Linked DNA regions of Homo sapiens: region 1 is linked to region 2. The links come from fine-mapping of genetic effects on gene expression. A gene starts in region 2. The other region holds a variant in brackets. All regions are shown on one strand. Distances are between the middles of the regions.

The links. PIP is the estimated chance that this variant, and not a neighbour inherited with it, causes the effect.
Region 1: its variant is the best candidate, but not a certain one, in a credible set for the expression of REC8 in blood mononuclear cells (TOPMed, PIP 0.50).

What each region holds. Positions count from the first base shown.
Region 1 is chr14:24,192,438-24,196,819 of GRCh38, forward strand. It overlaps TM9SF1 (transmembrane 9 superfamily member 1), which reads right to left and starts at 3,004. Exons shown (of 6, transcript NM_006405.7): 1 at 2,909-3,004; 2 at 2,238-2,599; 3 at 211-832. The coding sequence starts at 2,582. RefSeq lists enhancers at 2,584-3,283, 3,353-3,412, 3,663-3,902 and silencers at 2,773-2,952, 3,093-3,152. The variant TA/T (reference allele first, on the strand shown) is at 1,821.
Region 2 is chr14:24,169,902-24,174,283 of GRCh38, forward strand. It overlaps REC8 (REC8 meiotic recombination protein), which reads left to right and starts at 2,179. Exons shown (of 19, transcript NM_001048205.2): 1 at 2,179-2,707; 2 at 2,812-2,880; 3 at 2,998-3,140; 4 at 3,225-3,297; 5 at 3,390-3,510. The coding sequence starts at 2,652. RefSeq lists enhancers at 1,591-2,091, 2,160-2,409 and a silencer at 1,940-1,989.

The DNA of each region.
Region 1 (4,382 bases), 23 kb after region 2:
CCCAGACCCAGGGCCTCCAGCAAAACAATCTCCCCCAGTTTTGCTATCCAGAAAATCTACAATAGAATACGTGCATTCTTGCTAGAGCCACCCTATCCCTTAGGTCTGCCCCTCTGGATAGAAGAGAAGATCCACAGACCTTTTCTGAACAAACTCCCTACCTAGTTCTATCCCATGAGATAAATCCCCAATTCATTTTTATCACCTCACCAGTGCCAAGGGCCAGGAACTGGGCACCCACGCCAAGCACAGCACAGAGCAGACCACGGTATGGGGGGAAGCGGAAGACATCTGTATGGATAATTTTCCAGCCATTGTCACCCTGGTCAAAGTCATCACCAGAACCTGCAGAGGTGGTCTCCTCATCTAAGTTGTACCGAGCCAGGTCATTCCGAAGCACACGCATTAGAATGACAGCCACAAAACCCACCAGTAAAAACACAAGCACCATGGAGTTGATGATGGACAACCAATGGATTTCCAGTGTTCGAGGAAAGAAACCACCATCGTCACCACGGCGCCTGTCACTCCGACGCTCCACTGAAGTCTCAGACCAGCGCACGCTATAAGTGTGGGTAAGGCCTAGGAACTCGTCAGGTCGTAACCCATCCAAGCTGTGGGGCTTGACGTCCCGCACTGAAACATTGGCAAATATAATTCGGTCTCCATGGAATTCTAGGTGGAAGTCCAAATGGGTCCAGAGTCCTATCTTGTGGCTGTGTGGCAGGAAACCACTCTCCTCCATGTAGCCCACAAAGCCCCGGATTGGCAAGTCATCTACCACAAATTCAAAGTAGTACAGTTCTTCAATGGCCTGGCGCAGCTGCTCCACCTATAAAGAGCAAGTCAGGAGTTGGTCACACAAGATCTCCCCAGGCGCAGAGTTACAGCAAAGTTTCTCACCTTCAGCACTACTGATATTTTGGGGTGGATAATTCTTTTTTTTCGAGATGGAGTCTTGCTCTGTCACCCAGGCTGGAGTGCAGTGGTGCGATCTCGGCTTACTGCAACTTCTGCCTCCTGGGTTCAAGCAATTCTCCTGCCTCAGCCTCCCGAGTAGCTGGGATTACAGGCGCCCACCACCACACCCAGCTAATTTTTGTATTTTTAGTAGAGACAGGGTTTCACCATGTTGGCCAGGCTAGTCTCAAATTCCTGACCTCATGATCTGCCTGCCTCGGCCTCCCAAAGTGCTGGGATTGGTCGGGTGCGGAGGCTCATGCCTGTAATCCCAACACTTTGGGAGGCCGAGGCGGGCAGATCACGAGGTCAGGAGATCGAGACCATCCTGGCTAACACGGTGAAACCCCGTCTCTACTAAAAATACAAAAAATTAGCTGGGCGTGGTGGCGGGCGCCTGTAGTCCCAGCTACTCGGGAGGCTGAGGCAGGAGAATGGCGTGAACCCGGGAGGTGGAGCTTGCAGTGAGCCGAGATTGCGCCACGGCACTCCAGCCTGGGCGACAGAGCAAGACTCTGTCTCAAAAAAAAAAAAAAAGTGCTGGGATTACAGGAGTGAGCCACCACACCCAGCCTGGGTTGGATAATTCTTTGTCATAGTGGGGTTATCCCGTGCACTGTAGGATGTAGCTTTCCTGGCCTCTTCCCATTCTATGCTGGTAGTACCCCCCCAGCTGTAACAACAAAAAATGTCTCCAGACATTGCTAAATGTCCCTTGGGGGACAAAACTGTTCCCTGTTGACAATCACTGGGTTAGACTCTAGTATGTTGAGATTCTCCAAAAAAGAGCAAGTATGGCTTGACAGGGTTAAGGCCTAGAAAAAGGAGAGCGGTGAGGTATAAGGAGGTCTGGAGTGGAC[TA/T]AGGAGAAGTACCAGGATTCACTAAAGAAAAAGCATGACAGGGAAGTTTAGGTAGAGACTACAGGAAACAGCTAAGAAACAGCCAAGAGGTAGGCATGGAAGGAAACAGAACTATGTGGGACTGATAGTTGGGACCTCATGACCAACAGAGAAGCTTGCAGTAAGAAACCCTGGGCTCTGATATCAGTTCTGCAAATCACTGTCCATGTAATCTTGAAAAAAGTAACTTCTGAGCAAGTATGTATCTTAGTCAACTGAATTAGAATAGCATCACCTAACCTGCCTGCCACACTGGGTTGTATTGTAGTTAGAATCAAATCAGACAATTTCCATAAAGGTACCCTGAACCATAAATGTAAGGCACTGTTAGTCTCTGGGAAGGAGGGCTACGTGATAGCCAATGTGGAGAGGCTGACCTGTGCAGAACTGAGCTGCATGTGGCACAGAATTCTCTTCTCCACGTTTTCCCGAAAGCGGATCTCATACAAAGACTCAGCCATTCGGTCCCCATCCAGCACTTCACCCAGGCTAAGGCTTTTGTGACGTATCTTCTCAGGGCAGCAGACTGGAAGCTGATAGTAGTGGTAAGTTTCCTGAGGGTTATGGTAGGGTCCCACTTTGTTGACATACAGAATAACAGGGTCGCCGGCCTTGTAGTGTGTCACGCCTTCCACCCCTGGCCCATGGCCTGTGCCCAGCAACAGTATCAGGATTGGCAACCACTGGCAGCTCCAACTTCGAGGGTTCCCTACGACTGTCATCCTTAAGGCAGTGGAACCTGTTTGGGGGAATCCTGAGGTTATAGAAACCAGGGAGGTTACAGAAACCCCAGGTCAGGTGCCTCGAACTGAGGTCCCCTGGCTCCACTTGCTCCCATTGGCCCCCTCCCCGCCTCACCCTACCCCACGTCTCTCTATCCCAAAGACCCCGCTCCACCTCTGCTCTCTCATCCTCCCAACCTGGGGTTCACCCCACCCGCAGCCCGTCTGGCCCGGGGCCTCTACTACGCGCCCTGGCCCGTTTCCATGGCAACGCCGCTCGGTCTCGCACCTCGGGTCCCTTCCCGCCACAGCCCCGGGGTCCTCACCGCGCGGGAAGGGCTGGCCGAGGCGGCGCCAGCGGCCTTCGCGCCCCCGTAGCTGCCTTTGGGCTCCTGCTGGGGTCTCTCCCACAGCGGCGCGGTAGCGGCGGGTTGGAGAGGACCTGCCGACCGACTTCTACGGGGTTGCCCGTTGCTGCGCCTGACAGCGGCGGCTGCGGCTACACCGCGCTGGACACCGCTCTGGCTTACTCAAGAACTCCCCGTTGCGCCTTCTCCATCTGGAGGCCCGGCCCAGCTCCGGGGACCCCGTGAGGCTCGGCTTGCCCCGCCCGTCTTCGGCGAGGCGGGGGTCCTCCCGGCGATCGGCAGCGCGGCCCAGGACACGTCAGTCTTACCACTTCCGCCCTCACCGGCGGCGACCTCAGCCTGGCGGAAAGCTCCTTGCCTGGAACGCAGAGGGCCTTCGCTGCTGCGGCCCCTGGGGACTCCTTCGCGACGGCTTCCCGGGGAGGGGGCTGAGGCCTGGCAGCGAGGACCCTGACACCCCTTCGGGAGAGGAGTGGCTGCTAGGCCGCTCGCTTGCTCCTGGAAAGATTTGGGGTTTGAGAGCTCTTGGCCAGGAGGCTCGCGCTGGCCGAGGCCCGAGAGCTGTCCCCGCGGGACGGGACTAGCGAGGGCCGGGGAGATGGAGCGCAGGCGGCGTCTGGGTTCGAAGCACTTTCCGGCTGAACCACCTGCTGCTGAGGCTGAGCCCTGAGAGGCGGTTCGTGGCCCCCAAACCGGGGAAGGGGCGAAGCTTTGGGCATCTGTCCCATGCAAGGGTCCCAACATCTGAATCTCACCTCACTCGTCTCCCACCTGTCACGAATGGCCAGCGCCAAAGTGATAAATATGTAATAGGAATGTCTTCCCGAGGCTGTGCTGGAGACTTCCCTGGCCGCACAGTGACCGTTCAGAGCCCACGATAAGCAAGCCGAAACCCGGTTTGGCGCAGAGGCGCGCAAGGAGAGAGGTCTGTCCTTTGACTCTGTGAGTTGGGCAGCCTAACATGGTTATTGTTAATTGACGGTAAAGTATCTCGAGGTCCGTTAGTCTATGTTTTTGTTCTTATTTATCACTGTGTATGTCTTTGGGCTTCTCTTCACTTTGTATGGCAGATTATTTTGAAAAAGTTTACCCTTGTGTTTGTCTCAGCTGTTTTAAAGGGGATCTGCCGTCTAGGGAGTTCCCCTTGAAAATCGGACCTTTGAGCAGTGACTTCTGTTTTGCCACCTGGGAGCAACGTGTAAGGAAGTGGACTTAAGCTTCTCTCTCCCCAGGGGAAGAAGCACAGTGGAAAAATCACAAGTGACTTCTGGCCTGAAAAGCCCTTAATTTACCTGCTTCTACAATTACTGCCCTTTCTGACCCAGTTCTTTCCCTGCAGATATAGGTGAGGTTCAAAGAAGCAGATGGTGGAGTTTTGTTAGACAATCAGTGAATTTTCTAATTAGAAAAAGAACTGAGGTCGGGCGCGGTG
Region 2 (4,382 bases):
TCATGGCTCACTGCAGCCTCGACCTTCGGCTCAATCGATCCTCCTGTCTCAGCCTTCTGAGTAGCTGTGACTATAGGCATGTAATTTGAGAGGCCGAGGCGGGTGTCACCTGAGGTCAGGAGTTTGAGACCAGCCTGGCCAACATGGTTGAAACCCTGTCTCTACTAAAAATACAAAAAAATTAGCCAGGCATAGTGGCACATGCCTGTAGTCCCAGCTACTCAGGAGGCTTAGGTAGGAGAATTGCTTGAACCCAGGAGGCGGAGGTTGCACTGAGCCAAGATGGTCCATTGCACTCCAGCCTGGGCGACAAGCAAAATTCCATCTCAGAAAAAAAAAAAAAAAAAAAAAAAAAAAACTCTCAAATTGAAGGGGACTGTAAGAAGATAGGGTCAGCTCAGCTGCAGTAAGATATAAGTCTCAGGAAGAAGCATGCTCTGGAGTCAAGGCAGAGAAGGACATTCTAGGCCAAAGAAATGGCTGTGCAAAGGTAGGAGGCATAGGGACAAGGGTTATTATTACAACTGTACCTCTTAAATTTACACAATAATTGTTGAGAATATGGCTTTTCCAGGCTAGGAAGTTGTGCTGCATCCAAAAATGCTAAAGTCTATTTCAGCCGGGAGAACACTGACAGCTGGGAAAGGACCACACGTGGCGTGCCCATAACCTAAGTTGTTCAGATTTAGGAAGTGACCCCAGTAAGTCCTTTCGGAGTTTCGTGTAAGATTGACTTCTTCAGCTGGGGGCAGTGGCTCACGCCTGTAATCCCAGCACTTTGGGAGGCCAAGGCGGGCGGATCACCTGAGGTCAGGAGTTCGAGACCAGCCTGGCCAACATGGTGAAACCCCTGTCTCTACTAAAAAATACAAAATTTAGCCAGGTGTGGTGGTGGGCGCCTGTAATCCCAGCTACTCGGGAGCCTGAGGCAGGAGAATCCCCTGCACCGGGGAGGCGGAGGCTGCAATGAGCTGAGACTGCGCCACTGCACTCCAGCCTGGGTGACAGAGTGAAACTCCATCTCAAAAAAAAAAGAAACCAGCCTGGCCAACATAGTGAAATCCCGTCTCTTCTAAAAATGCAAAAATTAGTTGGGTGTGATGGAGGGCGCCTGTAATCCCAGCTACTCAGGAGGCCAAGACACGAGAATCGCTTGAACCTGAGGGGATGGGGGGCAGAGGATGCAGTGAGCCGAGATTGCCGAGATAGCGCCACTGCATTCCAGCCTGGGCAACAGTGAGAGCCTCCATCTCAAAAAAAAAAAAAAAAAATGGACTTCTTCCTCATTGACCTGTGGTGGCTCCAAGGCCATCAAAAAAAAAAAAAATGGACTTCTTCCTCATTGACCTGTGGTGGCTCCAAGGCCATCATCTCACAGCCTTTTTTTTTTTTTTTTTTTTTGAGACGGAGTCTTGCTCCCTTGCCCAGGTTGGAGTGGAGCTGCATGATCTCGGCTCACTGCAACCTCCGCCTCCCAGGTTCAAGCATTCTCCTGCCTCAGCCTCCTGAGTAGCTGGGATTACAGGCGCGTGCCACCACGCCCAGCTAACTTTTGCATTTTTAATAGAGACGGGGTTTCACCATATTGGTCAGGCTGGACTCGAACTCCTAACCTCATGATCCGCCCGCCTCGGCCTCCCAAAGTGCTAGGATTACAGGCGTGAGCCACTGCGCCCGGCCTCATCTCACATCTTTCTTCCTCTGCAGCACACGACACGCCCTAGTTGGAAACAAAGTCGGAGTTTGTGGATTGGGGGAAGGGCGGGGTCTAACCTCAGGTCAGGCGCCGTGCAAGGTACATCTTGGCACCCGGAAGAGGCCCAGTACAGTTGCCCCCGAGGTGACCCGACCTCCCCTACCAATTGAGGCGCCCTTGTTGCCAGGCTTGCGGCGGGGGAGCGGCGGGGGAGCGACGGGGATGCGCTCATTGGTCAAGGAAGGGGCGCCTGTTACTAGAGGCGAGAACCGGAGCCCATTGGTCGGAACACCTCACAATGGACCCCAGCGGCGCGCAAAATCCTTATGATTGGTTTGCTGGCTGCCTCGGGAGACCCTGTTGCCAGGATACTTGGCGTTCCCGACCCGACCCCCGTTCCCCATTGGCTGTCAGGGCAAAAGCCGCCATCTAATGAGGAGCGAGGTGCGGTGCCCCGAAGCGCTCGCTTCCCGCGGTGCGATCTAGTCCTGCAGTAGGCGGCCCGGGGCCACACCGCGGCCGCCCAAGCCAGTGCAAGGCCCAGGGGCCTGACATCGCTCCCAGCGCTCGAGGACCGAGGCCTGCTGTGGAGGACACCGTGCTCCCTCGGGACCTGCTCTGGATTCCGGCCCGGACGTCCCCTTGGAGCTCTGCATCTCCAACCTGGAACCCAACCCAGAAGTCTCAAGTTTGACGCATCACGTGGCGTGCGGATCCACTGAGGGTCCACAGAGAGGGGCGCCCATCTCCTGCGTCTCAGTTATCCTGGTAATTGTGTATCTGCCCATTGTTCGTTGCCTCATTAACTTGGCTTTCTAGGTGCACCCACCTTGCCACCAGAGAAGTCCAAATCCTGACTTCTCTCCAAGGTGTTGGGAATTCTGTGCCCTAAAGAATTCCGACTCAGATCCGAACGGGGATCTGGTGGAATCGAGGGTGAAAGACCAGAGGGACAATGTTCTACTATCCCAACGTGCTTCAGCGCCACACCGGCTGCTTTGCCACCATCTGGTAAGGGCGGGGCCCGTTGGCGCGCGATGGCGGACGCTGCCCGGGATCCCAGCCTGACAGCTCCCCCTCCATCCCCATTCTCCCACCTTCCCCACCCACTTCAGGCTGGCGGCGACTCGCGGCAGCCGGTTGGTGAAGCGCGAATACCTGAGGGTGAATGTGGTGAAAACCTGGTAAGGCCCAGAAAAGGGAAGGAGGGCCTGGTGCGGGGGGTGAGTTAGGGGATGGGGTGGCCAAGACTGTGGGCCCACTCCTGGACGCAGCGGTAATCAGGGCGCATTGTTCCCCAGCGAGGAAATCCTCAATTACGTGCTGGTACGAGTGCAACCCCCGCAGCCCGGCCTGCCGCGGCCCCGCTTCTCCCTCTATCTCTCAGCCCAACTTCAGATCGGTGTGATCCGCGTCTATTCTCAACAATGCCAGTACCTCGTGGGTAAGGCTGGGAACCCTCAAAGGTGGGGCGGGCTGAGCAGCTGTCTGCTAAGCTGGCTGTCTACCTCGTCCTCCCTGCCCACAGAGGACATCCAGCACATCTTGGAGCGCCTCCACCGTGCCCAGCTGCAGATCCGAATAGATATGGAGACTGAGCTGTGAGTGTGCCCTGGGCCTTTGATGGAACACCTGCTAGCTTGGCCTCAGCCTGGCTCAGCCTCAGTCCTTCACGGCCTACATTCTCTCCCAGACCCAGCCTGCTGCTTCCTAACCACCTGGCCATGATGGAGACCCTAGAAGATGCTCCAGATCCCTTTTTTGGGATGATGTCTGTGGATCCCAGACTTCCTAGTCCTTTCGATATCCCTCAGGTAGGGCTCATTCCCCAAGACTCGTGAATTGGCAATGCAGAAGGGGAGTGCTGTCCCTGTGTCACTCTGACATTGGGGTTGGGGAAGGAAGCTTACCACAGCTCTCTCCCACAGGAGATGGTGCAGGGGGACTGCCAAGGTGGACCCATCCAGGCGAAGCCCCCTGTACTTACCTACTCAGGGCCAATCTGATCAGACGGTTTCCCCACTGGAGGCAGCTCTTGTCCCCACTTGTCTCCACACTGTTTTCACTGCCAAGGCCCTAATCCAGGCTCTCATCTCTCTGCACTGGGCTTTCTTACCCCTGTCCTCCTCCATCTATTCCCAATACTCCTACAGCTTAATGTCACCCCCTTCCTTGGTTCCCCATTTGAACAGTGGCTCCTGCTGCAAACAGATTACTAGCATTTGGGGCTCTCCATGCCCCATTTATTTCTTTTTTTATTTTATTACTATTATTATTATTATTTTTGAGACAGGATCTTGCTCTGTGGCCCAGGCTGGAGTGCAGTGGCACGATCTCAGCTTACTGCAACCTCTGCCTCCCCGGTTCAAGCAATTCTCCTGCCTCAGCCTCCCGAGTAGCTGGGACTACAGGCATTTGCCACCATGCCCAACTGATTTTGTATTTTTAGTTGAGACAGGGTTTCACCATGCTGGCCAGGCTGGTTTCGAACCCCTGACCTCATGATCTGCCTGTCTCCTCCTCCTGAAGTGCTGGGATTACAGACATGAGCCACAGAGCCCGGCCCAATTTTTTTAGGGTTTCGCCTTATCGGCCAGGCTGGTCTCGAACTCCAGACCTCAGGTGATCCACCCACCCTGGCTTTCCAAAGTGCTAGGATTACAGACGTGAGCCATCGCGCTGGCCT